2 linked regions of the Homo sapiens genome follow. Each later gene encodes a partner of the first gene's protein in a complex. Each region holds a gene or a part of one and is shown in the gene's direction. Other genes may lie near its edges.

What was found. Proteins that work in one complex are often made in the same cells at the same time.
Region 2: DRC1 (region 1) and DRC5 share a complex: the UniProt entries of both Homo sapiens proteins name them as parts of the nexin-dynein regulatory complex.

What each region holds. Positions count from the first base shown.
Region 1 is NC_000002.12:26,439,901-26,446,926, forward strand, and holds part of DRC1 (dynein regulatory complex protein 1), read left to right. Parts: intron 1-477; coding exon 478-617; intron 618-4,321; coding exon 4,322-4,456; intron 4,457-4,815; coding exon 4,816-5,048; intron 5,049-7,026. UniProt on the Homo sapiens protein: Component of the nexin-dynein regulatory complex (N-DRC) a key regulator of ciliary/flagellar motility which maintains the alignment and integrity of the distal axoneme and regulates microtubule sliding in motile axonemes.
Region 2 is NC_000006.12:44,287,684-44,294,709, reverse strand, and holds part of DRC5 (dynein regulatory complex subunit 5), read left to right. Parts: intron 1-1,892; exon of another isoform or gene 1,893-2,232; intron 2,233-6,791; 5' UTR 6,792-6,884; coding exon 6,885-7,026. UniProt on the Homo sapiens protein: Component of the nexin-dynein regulatory complex (N-DRC) a key regulator of ciliary/flagellar motility which maintains the alignment and integrity of the distal axoneme and regulates microtubule sliding in motile axonemes.

The sequences.
Region 1 (7,026 bases):
GCTAGGGCCAACTAGTGTGTGAATATATATATATATACACACACACATACACACACACACACATATATATATACACACATATATATATTTGTGTTTCAGAGCATACCTTTATTTGCATACAATTTTAGATATAATTCACAGAGCAGATAAGTTTATAAATGTAGGAAAGTTTCTTTTTATATTACTTCCAGTATAAATTTCTACCAATACTTTTACCTCTTTATTCTTTATGAATATAGGTACAAAGATGAATACATCTGAATATGGCTATGCATAGCTAGGTAAATAAACAGACATAAACAGGATTATATAAGTATGTCTATGTAAATATTTACCTATATAAAGCATGTTCCCCAAAAGACATTTTAAATACTCTAGTGTATATAATACTAAGGATGCAGGTGTAGAGTTAGTGTGTTTGTGTGTGTGTGTGTGTGTGTGTGTGTATATATATATATATAGTTTTTTTAACTTTAGATTCTTGAGCAGCAGCTTCAGCAGAGGAAAGCAATTTATCAGCTAAACCAAGAGAAATTAGAGTACAACTTGCAGGTGCTGAAGAAGAGAGATGAAGAAAGCACAGTAATTAAATCCCAGCAGAAGAGGAAGATCAATCGGTAAGCTAGCATGCAGAGCGTCTTTCTTCTGGGCCTTCTGTGCTGAGAATAGGGATGGATATGTACTTTTTTCTATTGAAGGGGTAGAAACCATTAAAAATATAACCAACACTTATTAAAATAGTTTTTTGGAAAAGTTAATACATTCAATCTCTCCCCAAGAAAAGAGTACATAGCAAAAGATCTTCCGTCCCCATTCATCTTGTTCCTCTTTCCTACCTCTGTAACCATTATTTGTTTGTCTCTTCCAGAATTTCATTAGGCATATACAAGCCCACACAAATATTCTCATCCCCCATCTGCTTTTACATAAATGATGGCAGTCTGTACACACTCCTGTATATCTTGAAGGCCTTTCCATCCCAGTTCATAGAGAGCTTTCACAGTTTCTTAAGCTGCTTACTACCCACTGCATAGATGCACTATGATTTATTTGACCAGTCTCTAATGATGGACATGTAGATTGCTTCCAACCTTTTCCTCTTGCAAATAATACCAACCTAAGTACTCATGACATGTGCCAGTTTGCTTTTGTGGAGATACCGTGGCTCACTGAAAGGTACCTATTGCTTGAAATTTCTCATACATCCTTCCCTTCTTCCTCATCTCCTTACTCCTATCCTTCCTGCCTTTCTTCCTTTAAGAATTGCATTCTAAGTTTCAGACCATTGTGCTAGGCTCTGAGGACCAGAGTGAAATAAGACTTCTTGCTTGTGGAAGGAGACAAGATTGGGGATTTCCCTCCAAACCCCAAATAGCCTATTATTATTTAGGAATTAATTCCACTTGTAGGTTGGTAATACATACATTTTGGACACATGTTGAATGTATAGAGGAACATCAGTTGACCTTTTGGTAGTTACTTATTACAGAAAATGATACTGAATAAATGGGATGGCATCTTAAGCCTGATTATCTGAGAAATAAGAATAGACAGGGGACAATATTTATGAAAAAATTCCCACTATATATGCACCGTACTAGATAGCAGAACATCCAAGAAAGGCACACATCAATACAGTGAGGAGGCACCTGGGAAAGCTTCCCAAAGAAGTGAAATACTGGAGGGGGTGGGGACATGAATTGGCAAAAAGCAGTTAAGAGGAGACTCCAGGTGGACAGTGCTGGCAGCTGGGAATGGCTGGTCTGAAGGCAAGGAGGTAGGATTCAGAAAGTCACACAGTGGGTGAAGAGAATGGGTAAGGTAGGAGGCGGGAGGAGGCGCTTGAGGCAGAGCTTGGGTTTGATGCGTGTGGCTGAGAGATGAGTGGAATCTTCCCTCTTATTTCAAACTCAGACAGCTTTCCCTCAGCCTGAAAAACCCTTCAACGGACCCTGCTGTTTCTAAGCACCATCTTTTCGTCTCTTGCTTTCATTGCCATTTTCCTTTCCTGCTCACCACCACCCAGCATTTCACAATTTGACATATCTGTTTGTGCTGCTCTAACAGACTACCTGAGACTGGATAATTTACAAAGGCAAAAGTTTATTTCTCACAGTTCTGGAGTCTGGGAAGGCCAAGATCAAGGCTGGCAGGTTTAGTTTCTAGTGAGGGCTGCATCTTTCAGAGGGGAGGGATGCTGTGTCCTCACACAGTAGAAGAGCGGGAGAGCAAGCTGGCCTAAGGCTTTGGGAGGCCTCTTTTATAAAGGCCTTAATCCCATAATCCCATTCATGATGGAGGAGGCCTTATGGCCTCATTACCTCTTAAAGGTCCTGCCTCTTAATATTATCACATTGACAACACTGAATTTTGGAGGAGTTACATTCAAGCCGTAGCAACCTATGACCCCAGGATTGGACAAAAACTTCCCACAGTAGGATACTGATGATGCCCTTCTAGCCAAGCGCAGTGGCTTCTCCTCAGGCCTCATCTATTATGATTGGATACTGGATTTTCTTCTTTGGTTTAAATGACCCTAAAATATTTGCTCTTCTTTCTTAATGTATTTGTTTCCTTTGGTGGTTCTGCTTTTCCTTGCTTGATATGTCTTGAGTATCTAGATAAGACAATCTAGAAAATCCAGGCCTTACCATTGCTTTTAATTTTTATTTCATCTGCCACATACCTCAGTCTCATGGTTTTGAATATCCCCTTTTTGTTGATGACTGCCAACCTCATATCCCCAATCCTGAGCTCACCTTTCATTTACCTGGAACTGCCAACGTAACAGTTCAGCTTGGAGAGGCCCTGTCATTTCCAGGGCACAGTTTCTGAAACCAGACTTGCCTCTGCTCCCTGTTTCCAGTTCTCCAGCCTCACTCCCCTGCATCTCTAGCTTCCAGGCACTAAGAACTCTGGACTTTTTTTGTTGAGCTTCCTCTTGCAGCCATTCTTCCCTGTTCACTTCCTCGCCTGCTATCTTGCCCAGACCTTCAGTATGCACCTGGAGTTTGTTTTGTTAGCTTCGGTAATTAGATGACACATAGGAACTCCTTTACTGCATGACATTGGGAAAAAACACTTTGGAATGACTACTTATTTTTACATCTGTGCTTGGAAAGCCTCCTTGAAGGCTGTAGTTAAGGAAATGGGTTAGCTGTTTCTTTCTATCAGAGACTAAGGTAACGACTTTTTTTGCATTTTCTTGATGATGAAAATATGAATGATGAATGTTTGCATTTGAGAGACATTTTGATCATTTCAGAATAATGCTTAGGAGAGGGAAAATCTTATTTTTAGAATTTCTAAACTTAAAATATGTTGGCCTTCAGCTTCTCTGTTACTGTGTGAATGGGGCACTGATAAGAGCCACCTCTGTAGTAGTTTGAAGTCTGAAGTATGGGCCTGGGTCTAAACATTGCGCCTGCCATGCATATTTTATGGGCCGAGTTTCCATGCACAGAGCTCCTGTTAGCAGTGAGATGGTGAGCTGTGCCGTGCCTGGATTCACAGTGCTATTGGACAGGTTTTAACTGCCTCTTGCTATTCTGGAAATTTTGGACCACCCCCTCCCCTGCAAGCCTGGGTAAGTTAGATGCCTCACCTCTGGGCTCCCCTGGCACCCTGCATAAAACTCTCCTATAGCACTTTCCACGCTGTACTGTAATTAACGTTTGTCTTTGTTTTTGACTAGACTGATAGTACCTTGTATTGAAACGTATCTTTGTATTCATCTTTGTCTTTCAACATATCCTTGCGCAAAAGTGGCATTTCATGTTTGTTTAATGAATACGTGGATGAGTGAATAAATGAATGAATGAATGAGTTACTGGACCTGTTAACGGTATCAGCTCTTTGAGGCTGGAAGATTTATGTATCATAGGCTTTTGTGATATGCATTTTTTTTCTTTAAAATTTTCTTGCTTCATGATTGAATTAAACATCCAAGTCATGACAATGAAATCGTTGAGATAGATTATTTAAATATGTGAGGCTGGCCCTAGGTATGGGTATGGGCATTCTGACAAATGATGTATTGTGAAGTAGGTTCTGTCCACAGTCTTGAGTAGGAGGCTGCCTCTTGGTGGGAATGGGCTCTGGATTGTTTTCAATGCGTTTCGTTTTGGACTGTCCCAAGATCTCCTGTTGCCTTCCTTTTGTTGATCAAAATGGGATCTGTGTTTTGGAATATATGGGAGGGTTTTCTGCTCTTCCACAGATCTGCTCCTGGGTTTGTGGTAGAGCTGAATCAGGTGGATGAGAGGAACATACATAATACCTTCTATTCAGCTGCAGACTAACCTTTTTCTCCTTCAACCAGCCTGCATGATATACTTAACAATCTGAGATCAAAATATGCCAAGCAAATAAAGCAGTTTCAGGAGGAGAACCAGTCTCTAACCTCGGACTACAAACGTCTTGTGATGCAATTCAAGGAGCTACAGAAAGCCATGAGGTATCTTAAGGACTTGGTCCTAAGGCACTTGTCCTAGCATAGAGGTGACGGGGATGGAGTTTGTACAAGCTGTGATTTCGTTGGACTTGATGTCACCAGCTATTCTGGGGCTGGACCAGGCACTAGTTAACCTTTTGTGGTGTGTTCCCCTGGCCCTTCACTTGCGTGTCACCTGCCTTTTCTTGAGATGTGTTGGGATGGCTTCCAGTTTATCGTAAGTGGGAATCAGCCGCCCAGGGATGGGGCCAGGCCCAGGAATTAGCACAGCTCCTTTTCATATTCCTGCCCTGCTGCTATTTGAGGGGACCCTGGCCAGGTCCTGGGGCCAGCTGGCCATGCTCTGTGACTCTCCTTCACAGGCATTTTGCTCTTATTGATGATGAGAAGTTTTGGGAGATTTGGCTGATGAATGAAGAGGAGGCGAAGGACCTAATAGCCAGAGCCTTTGATGTGGACAGGATCATCCACACCCATCATCTGGGGCTTCCCTGGGCAGCACCTGATTTCTGGTTCCTGAACAATGTTGGGCCTATTTCTCAGCAGCCCCAGAAGTCCGCCACACAGATAGTAGAAGAAATGCTTATGCGCTCAGGTGACTAGAACACTGTCATAGAGCCTTAGAGCTGGAGGAGCCCCCTGAGAACATCGGGTCAAGCCAGTCACGTTAGAGATAGTCTAGGGAGGAGGGGGAAGAGTATGATTATTGGTATCGCTTTTAAGTCTCCTCTAATTTATAGCTTTGCTCTCTCTCCTGTATTATAAACTGGCAGTTAGGTCTAGAAGCTTGATCAGATGCAGGTCCAATTTATTTTTGCTAAGTACACTATTGTGTAGTACCTCCATCGGGATAAACTAATGTTAAATTGTCTCCCTTTTTGTGATGTTAGCAACCATTGCTAATCATTGTCTAAGATCCATTAACTGTATTAGGGATTGCAAAATGGTGATATGTTAGATTCTGTTCTTGTGTCTTTATTTAACAGAATACTTCTTAAAAGAAAATCTTCCCTTCCTCAGCAATTTGCTACCCTGAGATAGTCTGTATATGAAAAGCAGGATAGATGCTTATTTTTTCTCTGTTTACCAGTTTTCAAAATAATGGGTTGGGCCTCTAGCATCTTCCAAAGGTACCAATGAGTTTTTAAAAAATATTATGAATGCATGAGTTTAAACAAATTTGATGTATTTTAGTTTACTAAAGTAATTATCCTTATTGAGGCTCAAATTGTTCCATCTTTGGCTAGTGGAAATCTTCATATTGGCTTCTGGGTCCTTTTGATTCAGCCCTAGTAGTTATTTATTTATTTATTTATTTATTTTTGAGACAGAGTCTCGCTCTGTTGCCAGGCTGGATTGCAGTGGCGCGATCTGGGCTCACTGCAACCTCCGCCTCCCGGGTTCAAGCAATTCCCCTGCCTCAGCCTCCCGAGGAGCTGGGACTACAGGTGCGCACTGCCACACCTGGCTAATTTTGTTTATTTTTAGTAGAGACAGGGTTTCACCATATTGGCCAGGATGGTCTCCATCTCCTGAGCCCGTGATCCCCCCAACTCAGCCTCCCAAAAGGCTGGAATTACAAGTGTGAGCCACCACGCTTGGCTAGCCCTAGTAGTTTTTTTTAACAGCGTCCTGGCTCTCCAGGATGACCAGGTGTTCAAGGCACACATTATACTTTTCCTGCCTCTTGTCTGGAATCAGCCATTTCTCCAAGGATCCCCTGGTCCTTTCAAATAGGGAATTTTTTTTTTTTTTTTTTTTTTGAGATGGTCTCACTCTGTCGCCCAGGCTGGAGGGCAGTGGTGGGATCTCGGCTCACTGCAACCTCTGCCGCCAAGGCTTCAGCAATCCTCCCACCTCTGCCTCCCGAGTAGCTGGGACCAAAGACTCATGCCACAATGCCCAGCTAATTTTTGTATTTTTTTGTAGAGACATGGATTTGCCATGTTGCCCAGGCTGGTCTCAAATCCTGGGCTCAAGCGATTCCTTCCCAGAGTGCTGGGATTACAGGCTTGTGTCACCATGCATGCCCAGGGAATGGTATTTAGAAACCACGCTGTGGGCGCTGGGTGCTTATTGTTTTGGATTGGCCATTGTTTCTAGGCCTTTTCAGTGGACAGAGCTGAGAGTATAGGATTTCTTTTTTTTGGTAATAAAATAAATCATGAGTTCATTCTAATACCTCCTCATCAACAGGATGCCAGGATTTTTATTTAACAGTATCAAAGTGTATCCCCTTTCTTCCAACTTTAAAATCTTAGTGCTCAGTGACTTCAAAATAATGAATCACATGCCTTCCCCACAGCACCACAGAACTGCCTCAGAGGAAAATATCAGCCCTGCCACCAACAAATGATTACTAAAGACAGTTTACACTGTTTTATGGTTCCTTTTATTCTTAAAATGTGTCCCTCCAGGGATGTACAGACAGATTGCTATATTTTAAAGTCACCTGGAGCCAGGTGCGATGGCTCACCCCTGTAATCCCAGCACTTTGGGAGGCCAAGGCGCGCAGATCACCTGAGGTCAGGAATTCGAGACCAGCCTGGCCAACATGGCGAAAACCTGTCTCT
Region 2 (7,026 bases), on another chromosome or scaffold:
ACCTCTGCCTCCTGGGTTCAACCTTCATTTTTTTCCCCTAATTATCTTATAAACCACCTCTTTCAGCCTCTCAAGTAGCTGGGATTACAGGCATGTGCCACCATGCCTGGCTAATTTTTGTATTTTTAGTAGAGACGGGGTTTCACCATGTTGATCAGGCTGGTCTTGAACTCTTGACCTCAGGTAATCCACCCTCCTCGACCTCCCAAAGTGCTAAGACTACAGGCATGAGCCACCATATCCCGCCTCCCTTGCCCCTTTTCTAACTTTGCTTTTTGTATCTGAAACTCATTCACACTAAGGTGTGGAATACATATATCCTGATATCTTATATGTAGTCATGTGTATTATATATGTAATTTCTGCACACTTAAACTGTCAGAAACAATATATTACAACTTCTACTTTTTAAAAAGTTTGCTACATTAGGCTGGGTGCAGTGGCTCACGCCTGTAATCTCAGCGCTTTGGGAGGCCAAGGCGGGCAGATCACCTGAGGTCGAGAGTTCAAGACCAGCCTGACCAATATGGAGAAACCCCGTCTCTACTAAAAATACAAAATTAGCCAGCCGTGGTGGTGCATGCCTGTAATCCCAGCTATTCGGGAGGCTGAGACAGGAGAATCACTTGAACCCAGGATGCAGAGGTTGCGGTGAGCTGAGATTGCGCCATGGCACTCCAGCCTGGGCAACAAGAGCGAAACTCTGTCTCAAAAAAAAAAAAAGTTTGCTACATTAGTGTCAGTATACATTTTATGATTTACTATGCTTTTGTTTGACCTAAAATGATGAGATATGTTTTTAAAAAGCAGTTCAAGGTTAACATATGGATATAGGCATACAAGTATTGATATTAAATTTTGTTTCATTTAGGGGGAAAATGCATTTACCCTAACAGGGATGAAGACTGTACATTAGGGCCGTGAAATTCCCCTAGTGGAGTGCCAAAGGCCTGGGAGCGCACTTAGCCCGGGGAGGCCCTCCCCACTTCCCAAGGAGCAAGAATATGCTTTCTTCTTGCCTAGTGGAGGGCAGGAACAGTGAGGGGAGGGGGACATACTGAGTGACTGTGGAGGGGTAGTGTATTGTGGCTAGAGGTAGGAGACCTGCCCTCAGACGCTGGCCCCAGCTCTCATAGGTGTTTTAGGGCCAGTCATTTCCTGTTTCCTTGTTTCTTCATCTGTAAAATGGGGATAAGAAAGCCCATCCTAGCTCCATTATAGGGTGGTTGAAGAGTCACATGAGAAGATTTTTTTTATTTTTTAGAGACGGCATCTCACTATGTTGGCCAGGTTGGTCTTGAATTCTTAGCCTCAAGCAATCCTCCCACCTTGGCCTCCCAAAGTTCTAGGATTACAGGTGTGAGCCACCACACCCAGACTTTTTTTTTTTTTTTTTTTTTTTTGAGAGGATAGTTCTGAAAGGACCTTGAAAGGACCTTGTAACTGTTAAGTGCTGGACAGTTGTAAGGTGCTGATACTGTCCCAGCCCTGGAGAGATGGGATGTGAGACTAGAGGCTCAATGTAGTCAAGAGAGGAAGAGGCCACAGGAGTGAATCAGGTCCTGTGAGTAATAACCTGGGGGCCTTTGGCCATTCTCAGCTATCCCATTGAACTCTTTCATCTACTGATTGAGGATTTTTCCCATATTTTCACTCACCAAACTGTGAGCCTTTTGGTCAAAATGGGGCAGGACCTTTTGGTCAAAAGGAGTAGAAACCCAACTCTTAGCTTTGGCAAAGGGACTTATTAGAAGGCTGCCAAGTTAGCTCTCAGAGCTGAAGGCACTGCCAAAGAGCCAGACAGCTCTGGGAGCCTCCAGAACTAGGCATGGGGATTGAAGATACCAGGATGCTGTCTCTGTCTATCTATCGTTTCTGCTGGTCTCCCCCAGGCTTGATTCCCTCCCACCGCAAACAGACCTTGTACGTGTGGAGAGAAATGACTTCCAGCAGCAGGAGATCCAGATCCTTCAAGGACATATGTCCTTCTGTCTCCCTCCACTTGGACAAATCTCAAGAAGGACTCCGATTGGCTTATATCAGATAGCCACCCCCCAACAAGTTGCCCTGACCAATAGACACTCCTTTTGGCCAGAATCTATTATCAGAAGCCAGTGGAGCCGCCCCAAACACCAGCTACCTCGCCTAAAGCAGACCTACCACTGGGCTAGAAATTGGAGACAAAAATGAGGAGGAGACAGCCCCTACACCTCAAGAAGCTCACAGTCTAGTGTGGGTGTGGGGAACGGGTGGGCAGTCAGGTTACTGGAGTGATGCAGGTACTGGAAAGATGGGGTCTGACAACGGGAGGGGTTGTTTTGGGGTATCAGGGACAAAGAAGCACCTTGCCTTCAGAGAGGAAGTGGTGCTTGAGCTCAGACTCAGAAGACCAGTGATTGTCCCTTTCCCTGGCTGAGGTGGTGGGAAAGGCATTTCAGAGGGAACAACTTGAGCAAGGGCTGGGCAGCATGAACTGGGCTGCAATGTCCCAGATGCAAAGAGGAGCTTATTTCCAACAAGGTGTCCAGCCACGGAGGGCCTTACACACCAAGGTGAGGAGGCTGGATTTTACCCAGTGAGCAGTGGTGAGCTGCTAGAGGGCTTACATGGAGCCTGCCACAGCGGCTGTGTGAAGGCTAGATGTGAGAGAACCAGACTGGATGCCAGAGACCACATGCCTAACAGCTGAAGCTGTGATCCAGACAGACACTGGGGCCCTGAGCTAAGGCAGCAGCAGGAAAGGAGAGGCTGCCTGGGTGGGAGACAAAACTGAATCAGTAACTAGATGGTGGGGTGGGGCGGGAGGGCTGAAAGAGAGAGAGGTGACTCCCTGGTTTCTGGTGCCGGCATCTGGATGGATTGAGTTTGAGGGACCTAGGCAGCATCCCAGTGGACTTGAGTCTGGAATGCAGATGTAGGAGAGTCTGGCATTACACCACCACCCCCTAGCCTCACCATCCTGGTAACAGTACCCTCTGCTTCTCCTGGGATGTCACAGCTGGGAAACCCCACCTGGAAGAGGTGAAAGCTAGAACCCATCAGAAGGAATGAGTGGACGACCATGGCGGAATTCTGAGGGACCTTGGCACGTGAGAGATGGGCAGAGGGAGAGAAGTCTGTGGTGAAGACTTTTGGAAAAAGAATGGTCGGAAAGTAGGAGGAGAGCCAAGAGAGTGGCACGCCAAAGGGTGTCCCCCAAGGGCAGGGGTCAGAAGGCAACCTGCCAAGGGAGGAGCCATACTCCACATCCTCATAACAGTGACAGCGGGGCAGCAAGGAGTTAGTTTTGCTCGTTATCCTTTTAAATATACTTTGTTTTCTATGTTGTTAGTTTAAAAAGTAGATTTTTTTAAACACTTAGAACTAAAATCCTCCTTAGAAGAATCTTGTGTGTCTGGTAATAATTTGCCTGCCAAAATATTTTTGTGATATCCATTTTTAAAAAATCAAGAGATGATTAACTGAAAATTATCAACTCTGATCTTATGCAATTAATTTTTTCAACATTTGCCTTAAAATGACATCAGGCCTTATGGTATGGATGTTCCTATAAAGGCTGAAGGTAGTAGGGGCTCATTTTTATACCAGCCATGCACACGGCAGCCATGTGATATGGAGCGAGGCCCTGCCCCTTCCTTCTGAGAAGTTGGTTCAGGGCCCTGGAACATGCCCCGATGGGTCCTGCTGTGTCATGCCCAGAGGCAGGCTGCAGGCACAAAACAGCAGCAAGACCAATTAGGACCAGATCGTAGGAAGAACTCCAGGTCCTGAAAGTGAGGTGCTAGACGGTGGGACTAGAGTCACCTGATTGCAGAGGCATCCCACCTGGCCCCAGGTGGGGTTTCCCAGGTGTGGCTCCCCAGGAGAAGAAGGAGAAGGGACTGCCTGCCAGTATGGTGAAGCTGGATGGTGCTGTGAGGAATGACTAAAGAGTCAACTCCAGGGCAATGCACACCAGCAACCTGGGGCTCCCCCTGCCAAGCCTGGTCCTGCTCCCTGGGTGTGGCCCATGGGTGTCCAGGGACATATCTGGGACCAAGGGAAATTATAGAATGTTTTAGGCCAAAACCAAGCAGGAGTTGGGCTGGCCTGTTGCCTCTGACCTTCCTCCTTTGCCTCTGTCGTACTGTCTATGAGCCCCCAACACCACCCTGCCTCCTTGCCCTTCACATCACTCCTGGAAATAGGGAAGGGCCTCAGAAACTTTGCACTCACCCAAAGATACCATCTCAGGTCAGCACTCAAGAAGCAGGTCTCCTGGATGTGGTCTCTGCAGCCTCAGACCCCTGCCCCTCATAGTACCTTCACTCTCCACACACCCTGTATGCTTTACAATGATCAATATTAACCGACCATTATCTCAGGGGGATCTCCACTACAGCCCATGTAGGAAGATATTATTATCCAGTTTCTCAGATAAGGAAACTGAAGCTCAGATAGGTTAAGTAACTTGGCCAAGGTCACAAAGCACATAACTGACAAAGCCAGAAATGCAAAGTCAGCCGGTACCACTAAGCAGCAACCCCCTCCAGCCCTACACTCTGAGATGCCATTAGTCAAAAAGCACTATCTGGTTATTCCACAATTCTGGACACAATCTGTGTGTGAATTTGCATTTGATTTGCATAGGGGATGTCACAATACCTAGATATCTTTCCCGCACTATCTCTCTCCCTGCCACCCGCCTCTCAACCAGGCTTTTCCTCCTTGAGATGCCTGGCAGGCTGGGAAGCACCATCTGGTCCCTCCCTCTGCCAAGGACGCCTTTGCTGGTTCAGAGTGTTCCCTCCCACCGGCCACTACCCAGTGCACTGAGTCGTGAGGGTGCACATCTGATGGGAAACTGCCTGGAGGAGGAACTAGGTGCCAGCAGCCCCATTTGGGCTTTCCTCCAGCAGATCTCAGGGCAGGAGTGCAAGGGTGCAGGAATGGGCAAATGGGGGAGGGTCCCCGGACCAAGACACATCCTCTATCTTCTGTCTTCAGCCCCAGATTTAGCTGTCTTCTCGCCTCCCACGCTTGCCCACTGCTGTCTGGAATGCTGGGAGGCTGGGAGAGCTAGAGGAAGACTGGATGGGGAGATGGAAGGGAAGGGACCTGGAGTTTGAGCTCTCAGTGGGAAGGAGGAGAGAAGGGTGCTGGCACCTTGGGCAGGGCATGGGTCTTGTTCCCCTCTCCTTTCTCTCTCAACCTGCACTCTCTGAAACAGTAGCCACATTGAAACGGTAGGCTCAATGTGCCCATTGAGCCATCAAATTTTGAAGACCTCATATGAAAACATAGTATATAAAATGTCGCATTAATAATTTTATATTGATTATATGTTTAAATAACATTTTAGACATACTGGGCTAAATATAAAATTAATTTCATGGTCAGGCACAGTGGTTCACGCCTGTAATCCCAGCACTTTGGAAGGCTGAGGTGGGTGGATCACCTGAGGTCAGGAGTTCAAGACCAGCCTGGCCAACATGGTGAAACCCCGTCTCTACTAAAAATACAAAAATTAGCTGGGGGTGGTGGCAGGCGCCTGTAATCCCTGTAATCGGGAGGCTGAGACAGGAGAATCACTTGAACCCTGGAGGTGGAGGTTGCAGTGACCCAAAATCGCGCCATTGCACTCCAGCCTGGGCAACAAGAGCAAGACAAAAAAAAAAAAAAAAAAAAGCTAATTTCACCTGTTTTTCTTTTTTTTTTTTTTTTTTTTTTTTTTTTTGAGACAGAGTCTTGCTCTATCACCCAGGCTGGAGGGCAGTAGCACAGTCTTGGCTCACTGCAACCTCTGCATCCCAGGTTTAACTGATTGTCATGCCTCAGCCTTCCGAGTAGCTGGGACTACAGGTGCCTGCCACCCTGCCCAGCTAATCTGTGTATTTTTAGTAGAGACAGGATTTCACCATGTTGGCCAGGCTGGTCTCAAACTCCTGACCTCAAGGGACCCACCCACGTTGGCCTCCCAAAGTGCTGGGATTACAGGCATGAGCCACCACGCCCAGCCTTGTTTCTCTTTACTTTTTAAAATGTGGGCACTAAAGAAGTTAAAATAGCATATGTGGCTTGCATTTTGGCTTGCATTATATTTCTGTTGGCCAGAGCTGTTCTCAACCCCATCCTACGGATCAGGCAGTTGCTGTTCTATGAAATACTTAGTGCAGGGTCCTGTTATGAGCTGAATGGCTCTTTATTATATCTGTGTCTTTTGGCAATATACACCCCTCACCCTCAGAGGGCCGGTCCAATGTAGGGTTCAGAGCATGAATTTGACAGACTGAATTTAAACCCACCCGTGATACTTCTAAGCTGCATGACATTGGGCAAGTCAATTAGCCTCTCTGCTTCAGTTTCCCAGCAGAAAAATGGGAATAATACAAGCACCTATCTGAAAAAGCCTTTTCTGAAAAAGGCTTTTCTGAGGACACATGAATTAATAGGCATAAAGAACTAAAAAGATTGTCTGGCACAGAGCAATTACTGTAATTGCTGTAGAGCTATTATCTAAAATTTGGGGCTGCTCCTTGCTAGTTTCATGTGTCAGATACTATATTATGCCCTTTGGATGCATTATTTTATCCACTCCTCCAAATAATCCTACTGGAACTGCGACCTTCATTTCTCAGAGGCAACATCTGAAATTCAGAGAGGTTCAGTAACTTGCCCAAGGCCACACAGATAACTTGGATCTGCTTCACTCCAGGGACTGATCGTTAAGCACTATTCTGTACCACCTCTCTTAGTAAATGCCCACCAAGACCCACCAAAGTAACACCTCTACCCTCTTCCTTTTGCTCCAGATCCCTACCTGTTTCAAGGACCTGCCAGTCTGAGAAGCTTCTTGTCATAAGGCCATCCAGGGGCCACGCACCCCTACCTTGCCAGCCTCCAGCATGCAGGATACCGTAACGACATCAGCATTGTTGGACCCCAGCCACTCCTCAGTCTCCACCCAGGACAATTCCTCCACTGGAGGACACACTTCAAGCACAAGCCCACAGCTCTCAAAGCCTTCAATCACACCAGTCCCTGCAA